3 separate regions of the Homo sapiens genome follow, and all the other regions are linked to region 2. The links come from fine-mapping of genetic effects on gene expression. A gene starts in region 2. Each other region holds a variant in brackets. All regions are shown on one strand. Distances are from middle to middle.

Region 1 (4,241 bases), 30 kb after region 2:
GTTGTTTCTATTTTAACAATATATAAGCATAGAAACTTGTCTAATGTAACAGTCGTCAACTATGAACCCTGGTTATTTTTGATTCTGGGAAATTGGCTACTTTTCTCTTCTGTCTTGCCTATTTACTTTTTTTTCTTTTCTTTAAATATTTTAATTAACTTATAAATATTTTATTATTTAATTAAAAATTTAAAATATGAAACGCTTCACAAATTTGCATGTCCACCTTGCGCAGGGGGACCATGCTAATCTTCTCTGTATGAGTCCAATTTTAGTATATGTGATGCCAAAGTGAGCACTATTGAATTTTTTTTAGACTTTTACACTATGTTTAAATAAACAGTGAAGTTATATTTCTGGAAAAAAATAAAATAGCTCATGATTTTCTAAACATACTAGCTGGTATCAATAAAAAATGACACTTTTGGCTGGGCACAGAGGCTAATGCCTGTAATCCCGGCACTCTGGGGGGCCAAGGCAGGCGATTGCTTGAGCACAGGAGTCCGAGACCAGCCTGGGCAACATGGTCTGGTCTTGTCTCTACAAAAAATACAAAAATTAGCCAGATGTGGTGGCACACACCTGTAGTCTCAGCTTCTCAGAAGGCTGAGGTGGGAGGATCACCTGAGCTGAATCACCTGAGGCTGCAGTGGGCTGTGATCGACCACTGCACTCCAGCTTGGGCAACAGAGTGAGGCCTTGTCTCCGAAAAAAAAAAAAAAAAAAAAGACCTTTTCGCCTGCCTTAAACTCTCTGTAGAGACCCTCTACTTCTCCATTCTCACTGCATGTAGCAGCCACATTTTCCCTCCTTGTCATATTTCCAGGAAATAATGTGGCTGAGATTTTTGTCTGTATCTTTAAAAGCAGTGGTTTGAAGACTTGTTCACAGCACCTGAATGTTACAATGCTTTTGGTGGAGCAACCTAAAATCTGACTACACCTTATTCCAGCCTAGGAACTAGAAATATTACAACAGCCAAAAGGGCGATGTGTGCACACAAATCTGTATCTCAAAAATGATGATGTAAAAAATATTTTCCAGAAAATCAGAGATCTGAGTTTTCCCATTTATATTCCTTGATCACGTGCCAACTTTATCAATATCAAAGAGTTAAAGAGATGGGCAAAGGCCAGGTGTGGTGGCTCATGCCTGTAATCCCAGCACTTTGGGAGGCTGAAGCGGGCGGATCACCTGAGGTCAGGAGTTCGAGACCAACCTGGCCAACATGGGGAAACCCTGTCTCTACTAAAAACACAAAAATTAGCTGGGCGTGGTGGCACACGCCTGTAATCCCAGCTACTCGGCAGGCTGAGGCAGGAGAATCACTTGAACCTAGGGGGCGGAGGCTGCAGTGAGCTAAGACTGAGCCATTGCACTCCAGCCTGGGTGACAGAGTGAGACTCCACCTCAAAAAAATAAAATAATAATAATAATAAAAAGATGGGCAAATGAGCGGTAGCCAGCGTCAAGGATTCGAGAACTCTTTATGGGACAATAACACTGGGAAAATCTCATCCATGGATGTTGCTATTTTCTACTAATGGGGAAAATGCTGCTATTGTTTGATTTTCAAAGCAGAATACTTTGGGGCAGCTTAAGAAATACACATGTAAAGTTCAAGGTTTGAAAAAGAGTGTCCTTAAAAGAGCCAGTTTGATTAGCCGGGCATGGTGTCATGTGCCTGTAGTCCCAGCTACTTGGGAGGCTGAGGCCGGAGAATCGCTTGAACCCAGGAGGCGAAG[G/T]TTGCAGTGAGCCGAGATTGTGCCACTGCACTCCAGCCTGGGCGACAGAGTGAGACTCTGTATCAAAAAAAAAAAAAAACAAAAAAAAGAGTGAGTTTGGTGAGTTAGTGAAATTTCCTTTCCTTCCAGGTTATATATCAGCCAGTCATTGTTTCAAACATGATTACATCTCTCAAATGAGTGATAGTAACATTTTGAGTTTCAAAATGTAAAAGGAATGGCAAGTTCTGCCAGTCTTATCCTCGAGGGAAGCAAACTGTCATGGCTTAATTGTCCCCCAGAGATCATTAGGACTGTTAATTATTTGAACTTTACTCGTTTTGGCTTTCCTAGGAAATGCAGCTGACCAGAAGTTTCTATGAAGGATATGAGGTGGGATATATCTCCCTTAATATCCCCCATACATGCCTCTTTTCCTTTTCACAGGTACAAATGGCAGACCTGAGATGGCTGTTAGAGAATTGCATCCAGAATCCCGTGTCCTGTCCTACATTTTGCACTCTGGGTACCCCCTAAACTCCATCTTTCCTCAGAAGCTTCCAGGTCCTAGAGAAGAAAGAAAGGGGACCTCATCCTATGGCCAGGGTATTGGGGCTTTACCCACATTCTCTCATGTTAAGCCCCACAAAACTCCTCAGAGGCAGGTATTATCTCATCCATTTTACAGAGGAAGGAAGAGAGGATCAAACAGTCACTTTTCCAAGAGCTTACAGCTGTAAACTAGCCAGGGGCCTGACAGAAGCCTTTCCAACTCCAAAGCCCCCATCCTTTTCATTCGTCCAGAGATCCCCCTGCAGTTACTCTCTGACCAATGACACATCTGGGCACAGTACCCATGCCATAGCTAAGGTCAAGAAATGGGAACTACAAGCCGGGCACGGTGGCTCATGCCTGTAATCCTAGCACTTTGGGAGGCCAAGGTGGGGTGGATCACTTGAGGTCAGGAGTTCGAAACCAGCCTGGCCAACATGGTGAAACCCTGTCTCTACTAAAAATACAAAAAAATTAGCTGGGTGTGGTGGCGGGCACCTGTAATCCCAACTACTTGGGAGGCTGAGACAGGAGAATTGCTTGAATCCGGGAGGTGGAGATTGCAGTGAGCTAAGATTGTGCCACTGCACTCCAGCCTGGGTGACAGAGTGACAGAGTGACAGAGCAAGGCTCTGTCTCAAAAAAAAAAAAAAAAAGGGAAATACCATTGTGATCAGTACTACAACTATTACTAGTACTCACCACCCTGATTACAGCAATTATCTTTCTGCTTTGGATTATAATTATTTGTGACTCTTGTCTTTCCCTCCAGTAAAGTGTGAGTCTTTGGATGGGAATTGTCAAAGTCACTTTACTATTCCCTAACGATGCCTAGAACAGTCAGGTGCACATGTGCCCTGGTGATTCTGGGACATTTTGGGAAATGGCTCCTCCTACAGGTGTCAAAGCTCAGTGATTAGCTTTGGTTCTGTTGACAGACGGGGCTGCCTTTTCATGGATATGCCGTGGAAAGCAGCTTCTGATGTGGGTTGCAATGATCCCCGTCCTAGTATTCATGCCCCTGTGTAATCTCTCCCCTTGAGTGTGGGCTGGACATAGGGATTTGCTTCTCATGAACAGAATATGGCAAAAGTGATGGGGGCCAGGTGCGGTGGCTCACACCTGCAGTCCCAGCACTTTGGGAGGTCGAGGCAGGCAGATTACTTGAGGTCAGGAGTTCTAGACCAGCCTGGCCAACATGGTGAAACCCCGTCTCTACCAAAAATACAAAAATCAGCCAGGCTTATTGGCTTATACCTGTAATCCCAACTACTTGGGAGGCTGAGGCAGGGGAATTGCTTGAACCTGGGAGGCGGATTGCAGTGAGCCAAGATCACACCACTGCACTCCAGCCTGAGCGACAGAGCAAGACTTTGTCTCAAAAAGAAAAAAAGTGATGGGATGTCAGTTCTGTGCGTAGGTTACAAAAGACTGTGCCTTTGCCTTGCTGTCACTCTCTCTGGCTCTTCTTATGTGCTTTCTCTGATGGAGAAGGCTGGAGAGACCTATGTGACTACAGGCTGAGGGCATCCTCTGTCCAAGAGTCCTTGAGGACCTGATCCCTGTCAGCAACCGTAAAAACAAGCCTGCAGATGAGACCGCAGCCCTGACACCTTGAATGCAGCCTTGTAAGAGCCCCGGATACAGAAGACCCAGCTAAGCCATGCCCCGACCCCCACTCCACAGGAACTGTGAGGTGATAAAGGTGGATTGTTCTAAGACACTAAGTTTGGGAGTAATTTATTACACAGTAGTCAATAATGAATCCTTATGCTAACTATGTAAGGTTTTCAGGGAGAAAGGGCTAGTCTCATTATTACCTAAATTGGAAATAAATGGAATTTGGGGGCTGCTCCCTGGGACTAGTCAGAAGGGCTAAGAAGCATTTGTATCTAAACAATTAGTCATCATAGTTGTTTTAATTGAAAAAGTTGCAGTACAGAACTCACAAACTATACTGTCTTG
Region 2 (4,230 bases):
CACTATATGTTAAAATCTCTAATTCAGCAGTTAAGCCTCTACTTAATACATTTCCCCAAATCCATTCTCTCCATCTTCTTTAATACAATAATTCTGATTTTTGAACTGGGCATATTATGTCTCAGCTAATAGGCTCTATTTTACATCCTCCTTTGTACCTATGTGCAACCATATGATTAAGTTGTGGCCAAAGAAGTATAAAAATTGTTATATGAAACTTCCGAGTAATCCCTTTATAAAGTAGTCAGTGACCTTCTTCCTGCTTCATTTTTCCCACTGTCTAGAATGTGAACATAATGGCTGTAGCTCAAGCAGTTATTTTGAACCATGAAGTTACATGCTAAGAATTGTGAAGAAACAGAAGGGCAGGATCCAGAGACACTGGTGACCAAGGAGCCTCCAGACCAGTTCTGGATTACCTATTTCTAGTTTTCTTTCTGTAAGAGAGAAACTTCTATCTTGTTGAAGCTATTAATGTTTGCTTGTTGTATACAGCTGAACTTAATCCTAACAACAGACACATCCACTAACAGATATGAGCTCCTGGGACTCAACACTTCAAACCCCAGCTTGATGGTTGGATATCCCTCTTAGCAGAAGAAAAGGAAAGTCACTACTTCCCAAAGTTGCTTAAAGAGGCCAGTTTCCATTCCTTCTGACCACCATCCGCTTGGCTTTTGTGCTCGTTGAAGCAGCTCTACAGGGAGGCCCTTGGCTGACAAACTCCCAGTCTGCGGGCCCAGCAGGCCACAACAATGGTGGCTCGCACTAGGGGACCATAACATATGTGGCGTCATAAAAGAGGAGGGATGGGAGTGGGGAGGCTGATGTGACCCAGCTCTGACGGGTCAGTGAGCAGGAACAGAATGCTACGAGGTGGGCGCTGGTCACTGCAAATTTAAGTCAATACAGACAGGGAGGAAATAAGGCAACCTCTCTCTTTAGGTTGGGGTTTTTCTGCTTCCCCCTAGCTGCCCTGGCCAGATGGCGGCCTCCTCCCCTATAACCCAACCCCAGGCGGCAAAGGTGGAAGCCAGATCTAAGAACTGGGGGAGCTTAGACTCAGCACCCACCCCTATCCACAGCCTTGCAGAACTTGGATGACCCCTCCCTCTCCCAGCCTCACTCTCCCCATCTGTAAAGCGGGCGGCAGGCATTGACAGCTCTTTGGGCCTTTCCTCCAGGCCGGCGGAGGCCTGGGCACTGCGCTCCCCATCCTGGCCTCGCCTCTGCAAGAGCTGCCTCCACGGACATCTTTTCCGACCCCCTCCCCCTCCCTCGCCCCCTCTCCTCGTTCCCCCGATCCTCGGTCCCCCACCCCCGGTCTCCCCTCCCGCAACCCCTCGCCCTCCCGCAGCCTCACCCTCCTCCGACAGGTAGCGCAGGTCGTAGAACTCCCCCGCGAAGGTGCCGTAGGAGGAGTCGTGGCGCGGCACCGCCTCGTCGGCGCCCGTGTCCCCCCGCGCGCGTCCCCGGGGTCCCCGGCCCCCCGGGCCCGCACCGTCGTCCGCGGGGCTGGCTGCGCAGGCGGCGGGCCCCGTCAGTAGCAGCAGGAGCAGCGACGCCCAGACCCCCGGGTGCTGCCGGGGCGGCCGCGCCATCCGTGCGCACAGATCCCGCAGCCAGGCCGCTCGGGCCGCAGCGGGGGCGCCGCGGGCGCGGGCCGGGACTGAGCCTCCGCCGAGGCCACCAGCACGCGCCCGCGCAGCCGCGGAGCCTCCCGCACCCCCGCCTCCCTGCCTCGGTCTGCGCATCCTCGCTCCAGCACCGCAGCCTCCCCCTTCTTCTTGGAACCCCCCTCCTCCCCGCACCGATCTCTCCTTCCTAGCAGCTTCCCTTCTACCGTCCTTCTTTCCATTCTCCCCATCTCCCCGACTTCCCTCCACGCAGGCAGATTTGGCCCTTCTGGCCCCTTGCTACTCCGGAGTGTGGTCCGCGGACCGGCAGCATCAGCATCACCTGGAAGCTTGTTAGCATCGCTGAGGCCCCACTCCAGACCCATGAAGCGGGATGTTCATTTCATCAAAATTCCCAGGAGATCCCAATGCACGTTCAATTTATGAAACGCTCCTCTAGAGAGTTTACCCTGGACACACCTGGTCAGTGCTGCCTCCTCAACCTTGTGCCGGCACTTTTTGGTTTACATAAAGCACTTGCTAGACCTATTATTTCTTGGATCATCACAGAAGGAACTTGAAATTGCAAGACCCCCACAATAGAGCTAGGTAAACTGAGGTGTTTAGAGACAGAGAAAACTGGATTCACCTGCTTCCTCTCCAGGCTCTTGCGGTGTGTAATCAACAGAGGCTGGTGCCAGTAGGTAACCTGTTCCCCTTCAAAACTAGGCTTCTGGTTTACTCTCTTTCCCTGCAGCAAGCACGCGCAGGCCTTGGAAGGCCCACACCGTATCTGAGGGCCATGCTGAATTGTTGATTTTTCTCAAATCCATTCCTGCTGCTTGCAGTTCACTTTTGGCTATTTACTCAGCCATCCATTGATTCACACCAAGCATTTGCTTTATGGCAGGTCCCAGGGTTCTCTTTTGATGATGGTTGTTGGGGTGATATATTCGAATTGCTAAGCTGTTTTCCATCAGAGAGGCGGACGCAATTCCTTTCAGGCTGGTGTTGCAGAGCCAGCATTTTAACCTGCTTTTCCTATTTTATTATTTTATTTTATTGCATAAACAAAATAATTATGGAGGCAGAAAAGCATAGAGGTCCCAAATGCAGACCTAGAAGTCAGACTGCCTGATCTCTCATGATTAGTCATTGACATGATGCAATGAAGATTAGGGAAGATCATAGAGGTAAGGATCAATAGGGTTCAGTGCTGTAAGTGGCATGCACACATGTACACAATATTGTGAAATGTTAATATTCAAAAGGAAACTAGTGATCTTAACCCTTTATGGCCTGATTGGCTGAGAGATAAGGGTAGTGCTGTTGAAACAGGGGAGACATGATGGGGGACTTAGAAGTCAGGTATTTTCTATTAGGTATCAGCTAACAGTGGGCTGTCCAACTGGAATTTAAACATATTAATCCTGATGGCTGAATTGAGGTGTAATTCATGAAAACCTTGGGCTTCACTAGGTCCCCCAACATAGCAGTTGTCACAAAAAATAGATCAGATTATTTGAAAAAGGTAAGATGAACTATGATTACTTTAAAAACTCAAGAGACTTCTTCCCAAAAAGCATAGCGTGGCAATGCATAACATTCTAAAAAAGCTGATCCAACAGATTGAAAATCTGTTAAAGTGTAGTCCTTCAAAAAAAAAAAAAAAAACAAAAACAAAAACAAAAACCTTAAACCTTTCTTAAAAATTAAAATTTCTTTATTTTCTTTTCTTCTCTTTCTGTTCACCAGGGAAGGTATGGTCAACTTAGAATGGACCAAAGTTTAGCCAAAAAAATAAAGCATTAGACTTTTGATTTCAGTGTAGATTCTCTGGTTTGGGAATACAAGCTTTTACCTCTTACTTTCCTTTTTATTCCCTTCATTTTGGTTACTGAAATTAACAATAACGGTGCCCAAATAGAAGGCAAATGAAAACCAGGCCATTCTTCTCCGAGTAAATTAATCTGATATAAAAACACGTGGGCAGCCGGGCACGGTGGCTCACGCCTGTAACTCCAGCACTTTGGGAGGCCGAGGCGGGCGGATCACAAGGTCAGAAGATCGACACCATCCTGGCCAACACGGTGAAATCCCGTCTCTACTGAAAATACAAAAAATTAGCCGGGCATGGTGTCGGGCGCCTGAAGTCCCAGCTACTCGGGAAGCTAAGGCAGGAGAATGGCGTGAACCTGGGAGGCGGAGCTTGCAGTGAGTCGAGATCAGGCCACTGCACTCTAGCCTGGGCGACAGAGCAAGACTCCATCTCAAAAAACAAACAAAAAACAAACAAAAAAACAAAACAAAACAAAAAAAACCACCACCACGTGGGCTTTCTATATTGTTTTTATGGGGGTATTTGGGTATTTTGGGGACGGTTTACAACTACAGCCTAAAATGAAGTTTGCAGGTAAACTGTGGATTTCAATTCTCTCTCTACTCATGTAGACTCACAGGGGGCCACAGATAGGCTTCAGGGGTGATATGAGGACCTTATGAAAGTGCTGGAATAATGTTGTGATGTATGGGTTTTTCTAGGGAGAAAACCCATAGCTTTTTTTATGAATTATTTTTTCCATGTTCAACTTTTTTTTTAATTTACTTTAAGTTC
Region 3 (4,241 bases), 37 kb before region 2:
CCTCAGCCTCCCGAGTAGCTGGGATTACAGGTGCCTGCCACCACGCCCAGCTAATTTTTTGTATTTTTAGCAGAGATGGGGTTTTGCCATGTTGGCCAGGCTGGTCTCGAACTCCTGACCTCAACTGATCCACCAACCTCGGCCTCCCAAAGTGTTGGGATTACAGGTGTGAGCCACTGGGCCCCGCCACCAATACCTTAAATTTAGCTGTGTAAGATTCACTTCAGATTTCTGGCCTCCAGAACTGTATGAAAATGTATTTCTGTAGTTTTAAACCACTATGTTTGTGGAAACTGTTTTCAGGAGCAATAGAAAACTAAGATAAGCCTTGTCAGATGACAATGGTTCCAGAATACATCCTGCTGGTCTTTCGTCTGAGGCTGTTGGGTTGTTCTCCCCTTTCTTGGTGATGCCCCTGTACACCCTTTGCCTAACATATTTCTACCCCTTTGTTTTAATCAATTTAGGCTTCTCCCACAAATTACCACAGACGGACTGGTTTCAGCAACAAAAATTTCTTTCTCATGGTTCTGGAGGCTGGGAAGCCTGAGAACAGGCGCCAGCATTGTTGGGTTCTGGTGAGGGCCCTCTTCCTGGTTCAAAGATGGCCAGTTTCTCATTGTGTACTCACATGGTGGAGAGTGGAGAAAAGAAGCAAATTCTCTCCTGTCTCTTCTTATATGGACACTAATGCTATTCATGAGGGCTCTACCCTCACGGCCCAATTACCTACCAAAGGCTCCATCTCCAAATACCACCACATTGGGGATTAGGGTTTCAACATATGAATTTGGGAGGAACAAATGTTCAGTCCACAGCACCCCTTCCTTAAGGTTCACTTCAGTATCACCACCTGCTTTCCTAGTTGCCCCAGGCTGGGTGAGGACCTCCACTCAGGTTTAGCATCAGACCTGAGCTTTTCCTTACCACTGAATTCACCACAAGGTACTGTCATGGTGTGTGTTTGACTCTCCAAACAGGCCCCCAGGGTGAGCCCCAGGGTGGGGGCAGAAATCAAGAACTGTTCTTCCTAGAGTCCTCTCTGTGTAATGTCTAGCACAAGGACGAGCACATAAGAGTCTTCGATAAATATTTATTGTCTGGGTGTAGTGGCTTACACCTGTAATCCCAGCAATTTGGGAGGCTGAGGTGGGAGGATCGCTTGAGCCCAGGAGGTTGAGGCTACAGTAAGCTCTGATCGTGCCACTGCGCTCTGGCCTGGGTGACAAAGACCCTAAAAAAATAATAAATAAATAAATAAATAAATAAATATTGATTGATTGAATGAATGAATGAATGGTTAAAGCTTCTTAACCTCCTGGACGCAGGTGGCTCTCATGTCCATTGCAGTTCCTCTGTCTCTTCTTATAGCTTATCATCTGATCCTTGTACCTGCGACTGAGCCCTAAGAAATCTCCAAGTCAAACATTAGCCAGGATCAGATTTGATAGCTGGGCTGTCCACTCAGGATACTGCAAAATAAATACTACACGGAACAAGCAGAATACTAAACAAAGGACAAAATATTTGAATTTTTTTTTTTTGGTGAAAATTAGAGCTTTGAATGCAGAATGTGGTAATGCCTGATTCTTTTTTAACATGCCATTCCTTGATCTTCTCAAGCTAGCCCCTGTAGTACTGGCAGCTCAACGACCTCCCTGGTGATTCATTATGCTCTACAACTAAACTCTAATTATTCTCAAAATATTATATGGTTTAGTTGCCAATAATGCTGATTATTGAAATTCTTAGAGCTAGCCATGTGCAATTAACCAACTGATACACTTGAAATGGGATTATAGGCCTCCATTCACTACCTAATAAAGTATTAAACCAAAGCTATAAATGTAAGATTATTTTACAGATTGTTTCTCTACGGGAATTTTTACCTGATGACAGCAAAATGATTTTCCTCTTTGTCAGACAAGACAGGCTATCGTCTTCTCCAAGGTCTATAGATTCAGGGAGAAATGAGAGTGACTTTACTGATGAAAGATTTAAAACCAGAAACAGAAAAGAAAAATGCACCAGAGCAAAGCAATAAGGAATTATAAACTAACTTTAATTACATCAACAGGAAGAATTTCAAACTATGTTGTAATTCTTATTTTAAAGTTTAAATCTAATTAATATATTCTGACTAACATAATCATCCAAAGATAAAAGTATTTGTGATGGCAAATGGACAGAACAATCATTTAGGTAGCATCTAGGAATATTGCTACAATTACTTTACATAAATAGAAATCCACGTCTTTATTAGTAATGTGCCACACATCTTAGAGTAAAAATTTACATAAGATAGGCTTATAAATATACATAAATCTCAAAATTAATCACAAACATTAGGTACACAATTGTTATAAAACAAATATAACCTATCAATGTCTATGTAAAGGCATAGTTTTTACAAAATAGTATTTTGTAGACAGTCTCAAAAAAGTATATTAATACTCCTGGAGCCAGA[T/C]TGTTCCAGCATATCAGCATGTCTGTGGAAATAAGGCATCCGGAGAAGCTGCATTCACTCTTCCCCATGGCCAGGGCCTTCTATGTGATGAAACAGGTAGGATTCTAGTGACCTGGGTGAATGCTACACCCACTGCAGCACCCCATTACCTTAGAGAATCAATTACTCTCCAGAAGAATCCAACCAAATGGCTATCAGCCTAATAGCAAATATCCAGGGGAAAACTGAACACATTAATCAAGCAGCAGTGTGTTTTATGTTAAAAATCCCAAATAGCTTGATGAATCCATTACATTTTGAGTTGCCAGACATACTTAAAATCACACTAGCCTAGCCACTATTTTCATGAAGAGGAACTTATATGCAAGTCTTTTATTAAATATAAAAACAAAGAAATCTACCTTGAAACTAAATAACTGGATACTTGAATAACTGAATAAGGAACCTAATTAAATACAAAACCTGTATAGGTTGCATCAACATGCCAGTTACTCAGCTAACACTAGTCTTGGTTTCTTAACTAACAGTATAGAAAAGTCACATTCAACAGTGGTACTTTATATGTTCTTAACAATTCATATAATGTTGAATGGAGGAGGAAAGGCTTAGTAAAACATCCAGGAATCCTTTCTACAAACTACATTGCTATAAACTCAAGCATAGTTTTGCCTGTAATATGCATAATGTTCTACCTCTTGGGTTTTAAAGTAGGCAAGAGATCAGAAACAGAAACAACCTTGACAAAGACCTTCAAATGCTCATGGTGTGTATATTCAGGCCTTTGTGTATAAACACACACCATCATGTATGTACAAATATACACATGCTCCTCAAGTTACAAGAGGGTTATGTCTCAGTAAACCCATCAATTGTAAGTTGAAAATATCATAAGTCAAAACAATTATGGGACATAACCCCATTGTAAGTTGTAGGAATGTATCAAATGTATATCACTTTCATATCATCGTAAGTTTGAAAACTCTTAAGTTGAACCATCCAAATTCGGGGATCGTCTGTGTATATAAACACATGGAGAACCACCTAACTGTTCACTAAACATAACCAATTCCGTTTAGAGAACAAGGACATACAATTATACACGGCAGCAAAGTATACACATCCCAGCCTTTGGCCTAGTGCAGTGGTTCTCAAACATTTTTCCATTATGGTACATAAGGTAGATGCCACATCACATGTGTAAAACACTCCCATGGTGCAGCAGATTTTGATACAACTTTTATTTTATTTTATTTTATTTTATTTATTTATTTTTTAGACGGAGTCTTGCTCTGTTACCCAGGCTGGAGTGCAGAGGGGCAATCTCGGCTCATTGAAAGCTCCACCTCCCGGGTTCACGCCATTCTCTTGCCTCAGCCTCCTGAGTAGCTGGGACTACAGGCTCCCGCCACCACGCCCAGCTAATTTTTTTTGTATTTTTAGTAGAGATGGGGTTTCACCGTGTCAGCCAGGATGGTCTCGATCTCCTGATCTCGTGATCCGCCCACCTCGGCCTCCCGAAGTGCTGGGATTACAGGCTTGAGCCACCGCGCCCGGCCGATACAACTTTTTAAAACATCTCTAGGTTAATGAATTACTCTGAAACACTGAAATCCTTACCATGAAGAGCAGTTCAGCGCAATGGTTGTCCATGATCACCACAGTTACTTAAGACAAAACTGCTGCTTAGCCGGCTCTGTACTTTACTGCCACCACTTTTGCATCAATTCCAGAAAATATATTAGAATGCAAGAGCATGAGATGCCCTGTGCCATTT

Alleles and levels. Alleles are on the strand shown, and positions count from the first base shown. SD is a standard deviation of normalised expression in the study named. Not every link is listed here.
For the expression in prefrontal cortex of the gene that starts at base 1,712 in region 2, allele T in region 3 goes with a lower level than allele C (moderate effect, 0.50 SD a copy in ROSMAP).

Evidence for each region. PIP is the estimated chance that this variant, and not a neighbour inherited with it, causes the effect.
Region 1: its variant is the best candidate, but not a certain one, in a credible set for the expression of FRRS1L in tibial nerve (GTEx, PIP 0.87).
Region 3: its variant is the best candidate, but not a certain one, in a credible set for the expression of FRRS1L in prefrontal cortex (ROSMAP, PIP 0.71).

What each region holds. Positions count from the first base shown.
Region 1 is chr9:109,196,011-109,200,251 of GRCh38, forward strand. It overlaps EPB41L4B (erythrocyte membrane protein band 4.1 like 4B), which reads right to left. Exons shown (of 26, transcript NM_019114.5): 20 at 4,226-4,241. It also overlaps the pseudogene RNU6-984P. Among named protein-coding and RNA genes, the nearest start is that of FRRS1L, 31 kb to the left of the region's middle. The variant G/T (reference allele first, on the strand shown) is at 1,746.
Region 2 is chr9:109,165,538-109,169,767 of GRCh38, forward strand. FRRS1L (ferric chelate reductase 1 like) reads right to left here and starts at 1,712. Exons shown (of 5, transcript NM_014334.4): 1 at 1,364-1,712. The coding sequence starts at 1,601.
Region 3 is chr9:109,128,252-109,132,492 of GRCh38, forward strand. It overlaps FRRS1L (ferric chelate reductase 1 like), which reads right to left. Exons shown (of 5, transcript NM_014334.4): 5 at 2,042-4,241. Among named protein-coding and RNA genes, the nearest start is that of TMEM245, 10 kb to the left of the region's middle. The variant T/C (reference allele first, on the strand shown) is at 2,468.